Linked DNA regions of Homo sapiens: all the other regions are linked to region 3. The links come from fine-mapping of genetic effects on gene expression. A gene starts in region 3. Each other region holds a variant in brackets. All regions are shown on one strand. Distances are between the middles of the regions.

What was found. PIP is the estimated chance that this variant, and not a neighbour inherited with it, causes the effect.
Region 1: its variant is the best candidate, but not a certain one, in a credible set for the expression of IGFBP2 in unexposed skin (GTEx, PIP 0.68).
Region 2: its variant is the best candidate, but not a certain one, in a credible set for the expression of IGFBP2 in atrial appendage (GTEx, PIP 0.58).
Region 4: its variant is the best candidate, but not a certain one, in a credible set for the expression of IGFBP2 in damaged cartilage (Steinberg 2020, PIP 0.53).

What each region holds. Positions count from the first base shown.
Region 1 is chr2:216,559,949-216,562,630 of GRCh38, reverse strand. The region is part of intron 1 of LOC101928180 (a long non-coding RNA gene); the gene reads right to left. All of the region lies in intron 2 of LOC105373871 (a long non-coding RNA gene), which reads left to right. Among named protein-coding and RNA genes, the nearest start is that of LINC01280, 46 kb to the left of the region's middle. The variant A/C (reference allele first, on the strand shown) is at 1,417.
Region 2 is chr2:216,546,067-216,548,748 of GRCh38, reverse strand. No RefSeq gene overlaps it. Among named protein-coding and RNA genes, the nearest start is that of RPL37A, 49 kb to the right of the region's middle. The variant C/T (reference allele first, on the strand shown) is at 1,490.
Region 3 is chr2:216,632,140-216,634,805 of GRCh38, reverse strand. IGFBP2 (insulin like growth factor binding protein 2) reads right to left here and starts at 1,386. Exons shown (of 4, transcript NM_000597.3): 1 at 841-1,386. The coding sequence starts at 1,282.
Region 4 is chr2:216,552,513-216,555,194 of GRCh38, reverse strand. LOC101928180 (a long non-coding RNA gene) reads right to left here and starts at 1,143. Exons shown (of 2, transcript XR_427226.4): 1 at 1-1,143. RefSeq lists an enhancer at 1,752-2,263. The variant C/A (reference allele first, on the strand shown) is at 1,598.

The sequences.
Region 1 (2,682 bases), 72 kb after region 3:
CGGCGACATTCTTTCACCAGGCCCTGCTTTTCTCTGCTCATCTCAGTTCTGCTCACTCTGCTTGGCTCCACCTCAGACCTGTTCTCCCTGGGGGCAGCAAGATGGCCCCGGTTCCCACTCCCAGCCCCATTCCAATTCCAATGAAAGTGTCAGAATTGAAGTCTTTTTTTTCTTCTTCTTCTTTTTCTTTTGAGACAGAGTTTCACTATTGTTGCCCAGGCTGGAGTGCAATGGCACCATCTCGGCTCACTGCAACCTCCACCTCCAGGGTTCAAGGGAGTCTCCTGCCTCAGCCTCCCAAGTAGGTGGGATTACAGGCATGTGCCACCATGCCTGGCTAATTTTGTATTTTTGGTAGAGACAGGGTTTCTCCATGCTGGTCTCGAACTCCTGATCTCAGGCGATCCGCCCTCCTCAGCCTCCCAAAATGCTGGGACTACAGGCGTAAGCCACCACGCGCCCAGTCTAAAATGAAGCTTTTTTTTTTTTTTTTTTTTTTTGAGACGGAGTCTTACTCTGTCGCCCAGGCTGGAGTGCAGTGGCGCCATCTCGGCTTACTGCAAGCTCTACCTCCCGGGTTCATGCCGTTCTCCTGCCTCAGCCTCCCGAGTCGCTGGGACTACAGGCGCCTGCCACCATGCCCAGCTAATTTTTTGTATTTTTAGTAGAGATGGGGTTTCACCATGTTATCCAGGATGGTCTCCATCTCCTAACCTTGTGATCCGCCCGCCTCGGCCTCCCAAAGTGCTGGGATTACAGGCGTGAGCCACCACACCGGGCAAAATGAAGCTTTTAATGGCAAAGGACAAAACGTGATATCAGAAAGTTTTCAGATGGCTCTTGCTGCACTTGCCACACTACACCAACTTGGTGCTTTGCTTCTACCTCTTTCACCAGACAGCATGTTCCATTGAGGCAAGAATCTAACTTTCTTATTTATCATTGCATCCTTGGCATCTAGCACCATGCAGGGAACATAGCATCAAAAACAGTTGCTGAGGCCAGGTGCAGTGGCTCACGCCTGTAATCCCAGCACTTTAGGAGGCCGAGGTGGGCAGATCACAAGGTCAGGAGATTGAGACCATCCTGGCTAACACGGTGAAACCCCATCTCTACTAAAAACACAAAAAATTAGCCAGGCATGGTGGCATGCTCCTGTAGTCCCAGCTACTCGGGAGGCTGAGGCAGGAGAATCGCTTTAACCAGGAGGCAGAGGTTGCAGTGAGCCGAGATCACACCACTGCACTCCAGCCTGGGCGACAGAGTGAGACTCCGTCTCAAAAACAACAACAACAACAACAACAACAAAACAGTTGTTGAAGGAAGAGAAAAAGGAAAGAAGGGTTAACTTGAATAGGGGCTGGGCTCTGGGTATTCTGACCCCAGAGAAGTCTTGCTCACCCAAAGGCTCCCATT[A/C]TATGACCTCATAGAATAAGAAATCATCAGGCTTAGTCCAGGCCCGGTGGCTCATGCCTAGAATTCCAGCACTTTGTGAGACAGAGGAGGGAGTTTCGCTTGAGCCTAGGAGTTGGAGACCAGCCCAGGCAACATAGCAAAATCCTGTTTCTATTAGAAAAAAGAAAAAAAGAAAAGTTAAAAGAAATTAAAAAATAATCAGGCTCTCAAAATGTCTCCAAAGTACACCGGGGGAAAAATAAGAGTAACTCTGGCCCAGGGTCCAGGCATAGGAGAGCAAGTGTGCTTCTTTCTGAAACAAGCAGCCTTACTGGATGCACTCTCCTGGGTGGGCTGGATGACCATGTAGTGGAAGTCAGCCTCTCTCTATTCCAGGAAGGGAAAAGTTGAGCTGGAGATAGAACGATGGTCCATCTAGGGGAAAAGATAATCAACTCTCTGGCCGTATTTTAGTTTTAACTAGATCTCCATTTGCTCTCCACCTTGGCAGAACAATGTTAACAAATGCCTTTCTTTTTCATCCAGATATTCCCCAGATGGTTTCATGAGTCCCTGAATGGTGTATGTTTTGGCATAAATCTACCCACAGGACCTTTAAAAGGTCATATCCCTAAGCAAATTCAATAAAACAAAATGAACAAGTCCTTGGGACAAACTGGAATTGTCTCCAAATCTAATATTGAGGCCTGATACACTTTTTCAAAATGGAAGCTGCCCCAGTAGCCGCTGCAGAAAATGTGTTGAATTTATTCATCCATGAAGGCAGAGGGCTGGAAGTGCAGGAAAACTAAGGGTTGGAGAAACTCTTTTCTCCCAAGCCAACAAAACCAAGCAAGTTTGAGAGAAGGAAAGAGTTATTCTTGACTGAGAAGAGGTGGATGAACGTGGGAGGGAAGCAGAAGAGAGATGAGAAAAGTTTCCTACCCCCTGGTTCAGTGAGATGGAGAGAAGGGAGGAGAGGGGAGGGGGAGGGAGGGGGAGGGGAGGGGAGGGGAGGGGGAGGACAGAGGGAGGAGAGGGGAGGGGGAGGGGAGGGGGAAGGGAGAAGGAAGGGGAAGGGGAATGGGAAGGGAGGCGAAAGGGATGGGGAAGAGAGGGGAGGGGAAGGTGATGGGGAAGAGAGGGGAGGGGAAGGGGATGGGGAAGAGAGGGGAGGGGAAGGGGATGGGGAAGAGAGGGGAGGGGAAGGGGAAAGGAAGAGGAAGATGGGTACACAGAAAGACCTGCAGGGCCACTAGAACACCTTCTCCTGGGCCTAGGAGGAGA
Region 2 (2,682 bases), 86 kb after region 3:
CACAGTCTGAACAGTGAGTCTCGGTATTCTTTTGTGAAAGAGCCAACTACACTAGGCCTCAGTTTCCCCACCTATAAAATGGAAAGACCATTCGCTGCTTTGCCTTACTTGACATTGAAAAGAGTAAAGCCCATTTGAGATGTTAAAGGCCTTGGCATGTTGAAAGGAAGTGTCTGCAGGGATCTATGAACTGAGAGGTTATCCAGCCATGGAGATGGGAAAATGAGGACTGTTCACCCTAGAACATCTTCCAGGGGGACCTAATGAGTAATGGGGCCAGAGTCATTTGTAATGTGCCACCGGACTGTGCTCATCCTCTTGGCTGCCAACACTCCTGCTTTCAGATGATAGCCCACTTTTTTCCATCAAAGGAACCACGACTTGACTACTCCCAAGGCTTGGTGATCCCAAGCATTCCAAGACCACCTGCTACAAGCCTCCATCAGAGCTATCAAGCAGCAACTGCAGACTCCTCCTGGAGGCAGGAAACAGTCACAGGCCCAAAGGGAGGTGAAGAGAGATCACTGAGGTGCTAGCTTAAAGCCTGGGAAGTGTGAAGCACCATCTCAACATGTAGGTTTCAACTGCAGTCTCAGTGAGCCCTGGAATCCCACTGGGGTGTCTTGGTCAGAGATTGGAGGAGGCCAGAACTGGTTCCGCATCTCCCACCCCTGCCTCAACCACAGCATCTCTGATGTTATTGGTCTTAAATATTGGGATGTTTTGTTTGCAAAAAGAGTTCTATGACTCTAAAAATGTTTATGAAACACTTGTCTGCACTAGTAAATTTTATTTTTAAAAAAAAGCATACAGAAGAAAAACTAATTGCACTTAAGACTTTAGAATCATATATCACATCCAACAGAAGAATTCTACTAGGAAAAATGCCCAAGCTGTTGCCCCCAAACTAACGTAACATGCTCATAAATGGCATCTGCCTTTATATTCTTGCTATTTCTTTATTTAGCTTTCCCCATTCTCTCAATTCCTAAGTACTAGAACAGGTAGAGATGCTGCTATTTAGGAAAATATTCCCTGAGTATCCTCCTCTAGGCCACTGCAGACCCTTCTCGCAGCTCTGTTTTGTGCATCTTCCATACTTAACACTTAGTACTGCAGGTAGATCTAGACTATGAACACCTTGAGGACAGGGATCATGTCTAATTCCATCAATCTATGTGGCCCATGTTTAAGCACAGTGCCAGTAACTCAGGAGGAGTTTGAGAGACCTGAATGAATGAATGAATGAATGCATGAATGAAGACACTTCTGCACAAATGTATAATTTCCTGGTTTCTCTTCTGTAAGTAAGTTAACATCTTCTATGTTTTGTTTTGTTTTTTCTTCTAGGTCACAGAGGGCTAATGCTGTAAATTCTCTCTCAGGGGAAAGCTGGGCAGACACACTTGGGAACATTTAAAAAACTAGGTTGGCATTGGAGAGGAAACAGCCAATATATTTAGCCACCCATGGCATGCCAAGGCCTTAT[C/T]GAGACAGAAATAGGCACTGTAGGAGGAATCTCAATTAAATATTTTTCTAAGCAGTCAGCTCTGGGCTTTGCCTGAACATGGATAGAGAGCTGGGGTGAAGCACAGGACAGAAAGCCAAGAAGATCTCAGTGGGGCTTCTGAATCATCCTGGGGCTTAACTGCTAGCAATGTAAAACTGGTGACCCCAGGGGGCAGGGGTGCTGGCCTACCTTCCATGTCCAAGGAGCAGGACAACCTCCCTGCAGGCACTTTCCAGAATCCCACACATTTGGGGGACCCATCCTCTCCGCCATACCTACTCTTAAGTGGCAGCAAGTATCCGGAATATTCTTCCTATGAGCTTTACCCAACTGTTTCCAATAGTCAACACTCCCTAAGAATCGGTCTTATCCAGAAAGTACTCCTGGAATGACTTGAGGAGAAACACAATGACGCTTTGGGCATAGAATTCCACCCTGCAGCCTAGTTATCTTTTCTTTGTTAAAATATGCAGCACTTCAATCCAGAGACATAGGGACAACTGCCCTGAATTGACTGGGGTATGAGGATGGGCTCCAGTGCTGGGCAGGGTGAGAGTGGGAGGGGGTACCTGGCGGGGGTGCAGACAGTCCGGTGCAGAATGCACGTATGAATAATAACAAATCTCTCTTTTTTTTCATATGTGGGCTTTTCCAAATATGGAAAACAGCTTTTCCCACTTAAAAATGTATCATCAACTTTTTCCCATGTCATTGCATGTTCTTTTACAATGTGATTGTTAACATCTATATAGCATGCCCTCATTTGGAAGTCATTTTATTTAGCCCATCTCCAGCTGTTAAGCATTTAGATTGTTTCCTGTTATTATCACACTATGATGAACACGCTCAGGGTGACCGTTGTGTTAATTTCTAATCATTTCAAGAAGCAGGCTAGCTGGGGGTTAAGAACAAGGGTCTTGCAGCTGTTCTTCCCAATCTCAATCCCAGTGTCATAACTTGTTCCTTGTTAGACCTTGCTCACATGACTTGGTCTCCACATGCCTCATTTTCTTCATAGTAAAAAGTATCTATTAATACTTACTTTATAGGGTTGTCTTAGGGATTAAATATGTTAATAAATATAAGTGCTTAAAACAATGCCACTTTTAACGCTGTGTATGGTTGAGAAAGTACTCAGTAAACTTTAATTATGATATCTTTGGATTATATTC
Region 3 (2,666 bases):
CTATCCTACAGGAAAGGGTCCCTCAATTTAAGATAGGGGCGGGGGTGGGGGGTGGCAACGCATCTCTCCTGCCTTTCGATCTGGGGCCCAGATGCGAAACCGCACAGCCTGGCTGCCCCCGTCCAGGGAATGCAGCCGGCGATCGGGCTTAAGTTACATTGATTCAGCTGCTAGGAGACCCCTCGCCTACCAAATGCCTCCCTTTTATTTTTCCATTCAACGTGGTAGCAAGAGCCCTGCTCGTTCCCTATGGAGAAATAGTAGTGGTGGTTTTCATTTTTCTCCTAAGCGACTCATCCTACAAAGTACCAAGTCCTTTCTTTCCAACTCACAACCCCAGTAGAAGGAAGGGCCCCTTGGGACGCCGGTGCCTCCTCCTAGCTCCCTCTCCTCTTCCAAGGTTCCTGGTGTCACTGGCACCCCGCAGCCTCCGCCTCCCAGCAGCGATCCCACCAGGACCCTTGGGTCCTCAAGCAGTGCCCCAAATAAGATTCGAGTTCCTACTCCCATGGATCTGACCACCGGCCCCCTTCTCAGCAAATCCCTCCTCCAGAATAGAAGTCTGGGTCCGTTCCACGCGGGTAAAACTATGGCAGCAGGGATGCCTTTCCTCTCCCCATTCATCCCCACCAAATGAGTCGCCAGGGCTCTTCCACTTGCTCTAACTCCAGTTCCCCTCCCCGGGCCTGACTTCCGCGTCCCGCTAGCAACAGTCCCCCTTGATTTGGTCCAAGGTCTCGGCTCTGCCGCCCCTAAAACCGTCCGTAAGGTCCAGCCGCCCGTCGGGCTTCTCCGCTGCCCTCCAAGTTTCTCCCAACTACTTGTTCCAGACCGCGTTACCTGCAACCTGCTCCGGGCTGGCGCCATACTCGGCGTCCCGGCGCTTCTCACAAGTGCCCTCGCCCATGACCAGCGCCTGCAGGGGCAGCTCGGAGCCCGGGTGGGGATAGCAGCGCAGCCCCTGGCCGCAGCGCGGGGTGTAGACGCCGCACGCCTCGCCCTCCAGCCGGGCGCACACCGAGCAGCAGCCGCAGCCCGGCTCCCGGACGAGCTCCGCGCATGGCATGCGGGCGCCTCCGGCCACTGCGGCCACCGCGGCGGGCGGCGCAACCGGCGGGGGCCCGCAGGCGGCCAGGCGCTCGGGTGTGCAGGGCGGGCAGCGGAACAGCACCTCCGCGCGCGCCCCGCCGCCGCCGCCACTCGCGCCCAGTAGCAGCAGCAGCAGCGGCAGCAGCGGCGGCGGCGGCAGCGGCAGCGCGGGGCAGCCCACTCTCGGCAGCATGCTGGCGGTCGGCAGCGCGGCGCGGCGGGCGAGCGAGCGAGCGGGCGGGCGGGCAGGTGGCACGGCCCTGCGAGCGCGGGAGCCGCCTCCTCCGCTTCTTCCTCCTCCCTCGCCGCCGCAGCCGGGTCCTAAAGGGCCGGCTTCTCCCCGCCCCCTGCCTTCTCCCCTCCCCCTTTTGGAGACCACTCCCTTCCCCCCCGACACTCCCTCGCGCCGGCAAGTGAGTGCGCGCACGCCCGCTCGCCCACCTCCGCGTTGGCTGCGGGCTCTGGGGGTTCCCTGCTCTTCCCGGGCCCCGTCCCTCCGCACTCTTCTGGCCTGACTATGACTCCTGAAGGAGAATACGGATAACTCGCGGGTTTGGGTAGGACCGGCGTGGCGGTGGAGAAGAGCGCGTGCTTTTGTCTGCTCTCAGTTCAGTTCGCGAGGACTTCGTTTGCGCGCTTCCCCTGTGGCCGGCACTGGGCTAACCGCTGGGGAACACAAAAGACATAAGGCTCCGTTTTGACCTTCAAGTAGATTTCAGTCGGCTCATACCAACTCCTTCCATCCTGGGGTATCACCCACCACTGACACGTGGCTTGGAACAATGACTTCTTGTTGGGTGGGTCCTGCGGAGTTTCAGACCCGTCTAGACCAAGCTAGACCCAAACAGCCCCGAATGGTCTTAGTGACTATTGCAGTTTTCCAAACCTGGGAGCTCGTGACTACAACCTATGAGAACCCTAAGTGCCCCGCAAAACCTGCCCCCTTCGTCTGCAGACCCCCTCCCTTCTCCGCCCGCTAAAATAATCCCTTAGCACCCTGGGCCCCCACCTACAAATCTCGAGGCACTTGTTGCAGGACAGATCCCAGAACACTCAGTTGCAGGGGTCTTGGAGAGGTCAGATCAGCTCTCCAGGTGTGACAGACCCGCTCTGGGGTAAGGCCATTTATGGCTGTCTTCAATAATGCAGATGGACAAGCATGACCTCCTTTCATTGTTCTGTTTGATTTACTGAGTCATCTACCCAAGCTGCCCCCAACCCCCATCATTCCAGGCTGGACTCAGCCATAATCAACCATCTCCTGGGGTGTGACCCTAACAAAGACCCCTGTCAGAGAGATTCCTTGGGTGACAGGTGGACCATTAAGCTGCCTCCACCGCAGGTTTCATCTCCCTATACCTCAGCGCCCCTCTTCCCCCCAGACCCCTCCACTCTGGCTCTTTCTGACTTCAAGGCTCAGAGCCTGTTTGATTCAGTTCAACAGCTAGTTAACCCAATGGCCACCTGGCTCTGAAGGTGACCTAGATGCCTCCAGGAAGGCAAGTACCTGGTCTTAAGACGCCAAGCTGGGAAGAGTTATCGGGAAAGACTTTGGTAAGATAAAAAATAAATAAATA
Region 4 (2,682 bases), 80 kb after region 3:
GGACAGATGGGATGAGAAGTTTGAGGCGTGAGCAACATCGCACCACATCCATATAAAACTGCCTGCTATGGCAGGGACTGGGAGGAGAAGCCCAGTTCCTCTCTGGCCCACCTGGCCAGCCCCCACAGCATGGCTCCCTTCAGCCTCTGGGCTCTTCTCCTTCCACCTGTTCTGTCCTTAACAACCCTGAACAACCTCCAGTTCCCACAGGTCCCCAGGGCCTTTGTGAGCAAATGGAACATCCTGCCACTCCTCAGAGCCAGCTATAAACGCCAAATGATGTCAGGGAGCACTCAGGTGTTTCTGGCAAGAGAATTTGCCACTTTCTCTCCATGGGACTGATGAAGCAGAGGTGGGAGCTAGTCATGCTTTGTCTGGCCAGTGTGCAGCTCTGCCAGGACTGGTCTTCTCCTGGGACTTTAAGGCCCATAAACTCCTGAGAGGGGACCTCACAGATGGAGTCCAGCCATGGAGGGGTAGGAGGCTCAGCGCAGGGAAGTGGCTGTCTCAGAAAAGATGGGACTAGAACCCAGTTCTCCCAACTCGAAGTCAGGTGTTCCCTCCACCAGCCCATCTCCTAGGGTGCATTCTTTCCCTACTAGCCATGGAGCTTCTACTGTGAGCGAGGCTCTTACACACAGGGGAGCTCATATTTGATGAGAAAATGTTTCCAGTCCAACACCTCCACCCACAAAACCCTAATAGGGCATCTAAACATTTCCTGCAAAGAAGCCACAGCTCAGCAGGGCAGATCTGTGAAGCCAAGGTACACTGGGTCCTGTTCCAGAGCTCAACACCTCTCACCCACCCCACCAAAGGTGAAACTTCTCCAAAGTCCTCAGTGTCACCTTCTGTAAAGGATGGGAACCATGCTTTCTATGGTGTGATATATTCGAGGTTGATTTTCTGTAACAATGATGCTTCAAGTGAATTACCATTAAGTAAAAAGGATGATCCGGGAAGTCACGGTGTCCTGTGCCCCATACCACCCACTATGCCCCAAGCCCAGGATAAAAAGCACAGCCCAGTGTGGGGGTTTTGCTATAGCATTTGAGTTTTGAGACCAGATGGCCCCTGAATCCAGGGATCTGGGCAGGAGAGCCTGGAGCATTAGGGTTCTCCTACAGCCATAGAGCACGCCTTTCCAGGGTCACCCCAAACAGATGGACAAGCATCAGGGTGCCCAGGCAAAGGCACAAGTGAAGGCTGAAATTCTGCTTGGGGCCGAATGGCCAAAACATGTCCCTGCAGGCAGCAGGGACCTGTGCCCCTCATCCTTTTCCACCAGCAAACAGAATTCACCCTCCCAGTGTTCCTGGTGTATGATCTTTTAACAAATGTTTATTGAATACCAACTACGTACCTAAGACTGTTATAGACACTTGGAAAAAAGAGAAAAACAAACAAACAAAATCCCTGCCTCTGTGAAACTGATGTGCTAATGGAAGAGGCAATATGATGTCAGGGGTAATAAATTCTCTCAAGAAAAACAGAGTGGGGAGAGGATGGAAGACAGGGAGGCCGCCCTGGACACACTGGTCTGGGAGAGTCTCTGAGGCGGTGATGTCTACGCAGAGGCCTGAGTGGGGTAAAGGAA[C/A]CCGAGGAGACACCGTGGCAGTAAGATCCCAGCCAAGGGCACATCAAGACTCAGCGCCCTAGTGGGAGCGCATTTGTATTTGAGACTGGAACAAGTGAGCAAGGGAAGAGAAGTAGGAAATGAACCAGGGGCTCCTGCTCTCTGCACTGCATGGAACCTAAAACCAGGAAGATAGAACTAGCATTTGTTTAAGTGCTGAGTATACATCAGGCACCTCTCTTATTCAATTGCTAAAACCACCCTAGGAAGGAATATATAGGCTCAGAGGAACTACCAGATCACAATACTGAGTGACTAACTTGGAATTTGAACCCAGGAATGTGTGACTACACAGCCTGTTCTGTTTTCACTGTAGCCTCCTGGAGACAGGCTTTCTTTCAGGGTCCTGAGGCACTTTTATCTAAGCAGTCACTGTATGGGGCACATTGACCCACTGTCTGAGCCCAGGAGAAAACTGCGACAAGTGTCTGCCCTTTTGGCCATCAGCCTTAACAAAGGCAGATCACAAAGACTCACTCTTACCCATGTCCCGATCCCCCACCTGCCCCTCTTCCCAAGCCCCAAAAGGGCTATGGTTTGTGTACCCATGAGATATCCTGAGGCCAGAACAGAGAGAAACAGGACTGCTAGACAGACCTAGATTCCCAGGCTTCGAGTTCCCTCTTTCTTGGAACCAAAGGAAGATCAACTGCGAAGTCACATGAAGAGACACAGATGGGCTGAGCCAAAGCACAGCAAGCATGGTGCCCCCTTTTTTTTTTTTTTTTTTTTGGATGGAGTTTTGCTCTTGTCACCCAGGCTAGAGTGCAATGGTGTGATCTCAGCTCACTGCAACCTCCACCTACCAGGTTCAAGCAATTCTCCTGCCTCGGCCTCCCGAGTAGCTGGGATTACAGGCGTGCACCACCACACCCGGCTAATTGTTTGTATTTTTAGTAGAGATGGGGTTTCATTATGTTGGCCAGGCTGGTCTCGAACTCCTGACCTCAGGTGATCCACCCACCTCGGCCTCCCAAAGTGCTGGGATTACAGGTGTCAGCCACCGCATCTGGCCGTATGGTGCCATCTTTAGAACTGCAGAGAGC